2 linked regions of the Homo sapiens genome follow. The protein of the gene in region 2 purifies or fractionates together with the protein of the main gene of each other region. This does not show direct contact. Each region holds a gene or a part of one and is shown on either strand. Other genes may lie near its edges.

Region 1 (2,204 bases), on a different chromosome or scaffold from region 2:
ACCCCGCTTCCACTGGTGGCTGGTCTTCCTCATGGTGCTATGCAGGTGCCAAACACAGTTATATTCTCAAAGGTACAGGTCTTGTCTGGACATTGTTCAAACCAATAGCTACTGCGTTAGGCACACGGGAGATCCCTATTCCCAAAAATAGCTGTTGAGTTCTGGCCTGAGAGCATCTCCAGTGACCACCTTTAAATAAGGCTTTGGTTCAAACAGCATGGACCCAGCACCTGGGGAGGGTGGGCACAGGGGGCATGGACCCAGTACCTGGGGAGGGCGGGCATGGTGGTAGGAGACAACTCAACCACTGAGTCTTGGAGGTCCTGCCTTGGCCACGGAGGGCAGTGGCTGCCCTCACAAGAAGAGTTAAGGCACTTTCTTTAACTCTGGCCTAGGAGAATTATGTCTTAGTGACTCAGTGAGTTTAAATGACACTGCCTGGGCTCCCTAAAGTTGTTTACTTTTCTCCTATTTCCTGCTTTATTCCTTGCTCTCACCATGCTAATGTACAGATGTTGTTTAGATTTCTATGCTTATTGAAACAATGTAACTTTGGTACTAACAGAACAGGAGCGACCTTTTCCAGCATTGCTCGTAACAAAACAAAAATGTTAACTAGAAAAACTCCTTATGATGAAGAAATCTAAAGCCAGAGCTGGGACTCCAAACCCCTTCCAGGCTGGAAGACAGGTCGCTGAGTCCAGGCAAGGGGCCCCCGTAACTGCTTCCCGCCAGAAAGCCCAGCCGCGTGAGTGCAGCAGCAGCACCCCAGCCCTGGCGTGCCCGCACCACGCCCTCTAGATACTCTCCTAGCTCAGGCTGAACACGCCTGGATTGTGTCGGCCGGGACAGCCCCGTCAGGTGTGGGGCAGCTGACCCACGTCTGTGGTGAACATGCTCCTCCAAACTAGGACGGTGAAGGGCCCAGGGCGCTGGGAACTGCCAGGCGCTGACTCTCCTTCTGGGTTCTCACCAGCACCGGAACCCACCCCAGCCAATAGTCAGGAAGTGCCGCGGCCGAGCCTTCATCAACCCTAGTGAGTTTCCCACAGAACTGAATCCCTTTTCCCAAATTCAGCTGTGCATGAGCCCTTTTTGTTTGGTGCCCTGGAGCACTAGTGTAGTTCAATATTCTCTTCAGAAGGAAAACTCCAGCAGCCACCGGCCTGCAGGATGTGTGCTGAGCCCACATGACCTGAATGGACGGGTCATGTGGGAGGGGCCCTGGTGGGAGCTGTGGGCCACACGGCTGAGTTCTTCCAATACGGAAGCCCCGAGCTGGAGGCTCACACGCTGTGGGGCAGCCCAGAGTTGCTGGAAGCTTTACAGGGGTGCGTAGCTAATGGCGTCGGTGTCGCTCGGTCGCTGTGGAGGGGTACCCCCGCTATTGGGGCGGCTCCTCCCGGCATGCTCAGGTCTCAAAGTACTTGTAGATCGCCGTCACATACAGCATCACGTTCTGCCAGTCGGGTCGTTCAGTCCGTACCATTTCATTAATGTCCTGACAGACAAGGAAGACGCTTGGTTAGAACTGCAGGTCACCTCCAGGCTGTGCCAATGGGCTCTGCCATAGCAACATGGGCTCTTGGAGTTGGATGGGGCCTTGAAATATTTTCTAGGCCTAATTACACATTTTTAAAGCCTGGCCAAGAATGCTTCCTCCCTGGGCATCAGCATCGTCCCCAGGCCATCCACCCCTGCCCCAGAGCCACAGGCAAGGTGCCTCCCTGCTCACGGCTCTGCAGGATGGGAAGGGTTTCATCCAGTCTGGGCGGAGGAACTTCCTCCCTCCTCCCCGCGCCTGCCTCTCTTCTTAAACCACTCCTTGGGGGACCCTTCTGAGAGCCCTTCTCAGCCCCAGGCACTGGCCTAGGAGAATTTCTCTCTGTCGGGGGCTCCCAGAACCAACACTCTGACGGCCTTCACCATGGGCAACAGTCTGAAATCATCCAAGACTCTGCTCTGTAACTGTGCTCTGCTGAACGCCAGTGACCTGTGACCGGTGAACTGATGTTCTAGGAAAATAAACTTGGGAAACCGTGGACCCACCCCCACCTCACTCCAGTGTCTCACAGCCTTTAACACGAGACAGAAGGCCTCAAAAAGTGACACACTGCTGCTGCTGAAGGCTCGGGGAGTGACCCAAGGGGCCGGCCTGAGAGATCCTTCCCTTCCCATGGGTGACGAGCACAGGACGTGTGGCT
Region 2 (3,997 bases):
GTGCTTCCTGGAGAATCTGTCACTATCCAGTTGTGTATGTGTCCCAGAAATGACATCATCGAGTCCCCAAAGCCTCCTGCTGCTTTGCAGAACTGGGAGAAAGTGCAGCCCCACAGGGGAATGAAAAGAACCCCATGAACACTCAGCGAATGGAAGAGAGAAGTTGGCAACTCTAACCCAGCACATTCCACAATTCATTGAGATGCAGTTCACCCGAGCCAAGGAACGATGCCCAGATAACCAGGAACACCCGACATTCCCGCCTCCCTCCTGGCAAAATGGTGGAGGCAAAGGACACACCTTAGGGGAATCCCAGCTGGACCCACAGGCGCCAGGGGCAGCTCTGCTGTGGGCTGCATGCTTGCTTATGACGGCGGTGATGATGGTGAGGTATTAATAAAAAGGAGCTTGAAATTCATCTGTTTCAAACATCTCCTTTTACAGGTGAATCAATGAAGTCTTGGGAGATGAAGTGATCTGGCTGATGTCACTCACTGTGAGTGTTGGGCCTGGGATCCGGATGAGACTTTGAGACTCTGGATGCAGAGCTCTTCGTAACTTACTGGAAGCTGACCAGCTCCTCAAAGTCACCTCCCATATACCACTCAGGAGGACAGGGCAGCCTTTCACGTCGGAAGTGGGAGAAGAGCCCCAAAGGTGGCGCTCTGGCTCAGGAATCAAAGGAATTGGGTCCCAGCCGCAGCCCCGGCACCAGCAAGCACAAAAGGCTTATCCTCCCAAGGATGCCCTGGGAGCCTCTGGGGGTCCCGCTGGGCTCCCTCACCTGGGCATGGGCCCTGAGAAGTGCTCCATTTCATCAACTTGGTATCTGCACTTCTTGGTAGGATTTTACCAAATAAAGAGTTCAGAGCTAAGTAAGTTTAAAACCACGGAATACATGGTCCTGCCCAGTACATTTAGCACCCATCATTTTGGCTATGGTGGCCGAGGTCTTGGGGTGCAGGGGTGATGGCTTTGCTTCTGTTCACCAATAGGGGGAGAGAGATACGCACTCTGACGCTGAAGAAGAAAGGGAAGGCCAGGTCAGGCTTTCCCCATCTCTCTTCTCCAACCTGCAGTCAGGTGGAAGTTCAAAGGGCCAGAACCAGAGTGTTCACAGGCCAGGGACGTCACTGGGCACGCACCTCATCTGCCACCCCCATAAGAGGACCAGCATACCCTGTCCTTGTGGGGCAGGGCTGCCATGGCAAGGGAATGCCCATGCAACTGCAAGGCCTGCTGGGAGGAGCTGGGGAGGGGGCTGGTTGGAGGGCGATGAGCAGCCTGCTACCCATTCATCTTACAGCCAGAGGGAAGAGCGATGGCAAGCACCACACTGCCTGGCTGCTTGTCCCCACAGGGCATGCTAACGACTCCCCCTCAGTCCCATGACCTCGCGGCTTCAGGGGTAGCTCAGAGACTTGCAGATGGAAAGACGGGTTTCCATTCTTCCTTCCCAGCACCCATCAAGGCGAAATCTCCCACTCTAGATCAAGGGCCAAGTCATCGAACTTCTCTGGGCCACCACTGTCTCCCTCTCACTTGGCGATGGAATCTGAGGGAACACCTGTAGGTAAAGCCAGGGAAGGGGCTAGGACAGCACAATGGGTTCTAGTCAACAATGGGGCTCTGGCCTTGGCGTGGGGAGGCCTGGGGGTGGCTACCGTGTGTGGCACAAATACCAAGGTGCAGCATCTTAGGGTGGGCTTCTAGTGAAGAAAGAGGGGATGTGGGTGCCTGGAGAGGGAGGGTGAGCACCTCCCCCTACCCGGTGCCAGGTGTAAACTCAATGCCATTGGCTCTGCTAGACTAACTGGAATCATCCACCGAGCATGGTATCACATCTCAACAATCTCCCAGTGCCAGAGTGCGAACCCAGGTCATCTCCAATGGCCTTCTTTCCTCGCTTGCAGACCTGGGTGTTCTATCAGCAGAGCGGCAACCAGGGAAGCTATGGCTCAGTTCTGCTTCCCCAGTTTTGGAAACTCCAGGAACAGGAATGCTAGGAGCTGTAGTCAGGAAGATCCCCCGCCCAACCCACCCATGCCTGCACTGCCCAGGACCTGCTGCAGAGGGATACCAGCAGCTTGCGGCCCTTGCTCTTCCAGAAGCCATTTTAGGCTGAGCAGGGAAGGAAGGAGGGCTCCTCTCCGCCTTGCCACCATCTTAATCCAGAGCCCCATAAAGCAAGACCGCCACTTCGCCACACTTACGCGGCCCCTCTATGTTCTCCTGCTCTCCCTTCCCCTTTCACACACAAATACGCTCCCCACACACTGCAGAACCACTGCCAGCTCTTTCACAACCAGCTTTTCCCATCAAATAGCTGCACGGCCTGAGGGTTGGCGGCCATCTCTCGGGACCCCCACCCTCCACCCACTGTGGACCTCCGAGACCCTGGCCGCAGGTGTTTCATCAGCTCCAGGACGGAACATCCAGGACTGCGAGAAAAGGAGGGAAGTGTGCGATTTGAGGAGCAGGTGAGGGCAACAGCTCGGGTTGGGGAATCTGCATCTCCTACCTCTGCCTCTCAGTCACTCTGTGCCCGCTACTGGCCAGAGTCCTGGGTCCTTGCCCATTCATCACACCCTGGCCCCACAATGCACAATCGCCTCTCCATGGAAGGTGTTTCCTTCAAGAAAAGCGGCCTTCGGTGTTTGTACTGTGAGGCCGACTGTTGTAAAACTCCACGCAGCCAGGATTCTATGTGACTCAGTCAGTTGCACAAACCCAAGTGCAGATGAGGGAAAGCAACTTCTTTCGATACAGGCCCCTCCTTTCCAGACCCAGGAAACTGCCGAGGACCTACCTGTGCTCTGCCCTGTCAACGCCTGAGGCTTAGTGCCTAGCACACCATTTTCATGTGGTTTGGGGGTGTCCTTTCCTAGTCCCTGACCAAAGCTAGTTCAAGGCCCCCAAAACACAGTCTTTATAACTGCCTCTGTATCCCTCTGGGCCTCTGTCCTCAGTCTCTGAATCCCAGGCTCCCTACTCTGGCCCCGGAGCTGGCAGCCAGCCCAAAGATCTGGGCAAGAAGGCCACGGGTGGGGGATGGGATCCCCGGTTTTCGAGAATGGGTCTAGACGGAATCTGGGGATCTGCCCACACCCCGGTAACTCCACCCAGCACCCCTACCCCAATCAGAGATCAGAGAGGAGGAAGGGGCAGTTAGACCCCAAAAGATCTGTTAGTCAAGAGACAGTGTTGAGCAGAGCTCTGGCTATCAACAGCTGGGCAGTGGGGGAGTTTAGGGTCGGGGGTCAGCTGTCCTTGGGCCAGAGAGAAAGAACTGGCTGACCCCTCCCCCACAGTGAATCATGATGAGAGAGGAAGGAGACAGCCGAGCCTGGGAGACAAAATGACAGGTCACTGGAGGACTGACCTCTCGGGCCCGGGCCAGACAGCAGAAGGGAAGGAAGCCAGAGTGACCACTATCCAAAAGGCAGCAGGGGTCCACAGGGGTCCTAAGAACCGCCCCCAGGGCTGCAGGAAGGATAACGGACTCTCCCACCAAGGGGCACAGGGCGCATGTGCACGCCATGAGGCCTGGCCTGCATCCAGGAGAACAGGACTACAGAAAACCAGCAAGGGGAAACCTGTGCCCTAGATGAACAGGCAGGGGGCCGGGAGGACTCCACACTCAAGCCTGCAAGTGCAGAACACACAGGTCCTGCTAGAAACACGTAAGGGCAGCCAGAAAAGGAAAGCCATCATATCCACTTTAGTCGGAACAGTTAAAATCAGGGTGAAAATCGGAGATGGTAGCATTTTCACAATTAGTGAAGGTCCAACCTACACTTCGGTTTACAAAGCACGTCCACGTGCATCACCTCTTTCTGATTTTAATTTTCCTAGCTGCTCTGAAAAGGCTGTAGGATGATGTATCAATAGGCTTGTTTTGGAGATGAAGAAGCTCGGGTTCAGAGAGGTTAAGCAGCCAATTAAAGGTCACTCACTGATATGCAGCAAAGCCTGACTTTTTGACTGTGAGCACAGG

What was found. Proteins that work in one complex are often made in the same cells at the same time.
Region 1: the proteins of CCND2 (region 2) and SPECC1L purify together in Homo sapiens (affinity purification with mass spectrometry; one large-scale study listed by BioGRID and IntAct). This does not show direct contact.

Annotation. Positions count from the first base shown.
Region 1 is NC_000022.11:24,413,831-24,416,034, reverse strand, and holds part of SPECC1L (cytospin-A), read right to left. Parts: intron 1,502-2,204; coding exon 1,412-1,501; 3' UTR 1-1,411. UniProt on the Homo sapiens protein: Involved in cytokinesis and spindle organization. May play a role in actin cytoskeleton organization and microtubule stabilization and hence required for proper cell adhesion and migration.
Region 2 is NC_000012.12:4,279,998-4,283,994, reverse strand, and holds part of CCND2 (G1/S-specific cyclin-D2), read right to left. Parts: intron 1-3,997. UniProt on the Homo sapiens protein: Regulatory component of the cyclin D2-CDK4 (DC) complex that phosphorylates and inhibits members of the retinoblastoma (RB) protein family including RB1 and regulates the cell-cycle during G(1)/S transition.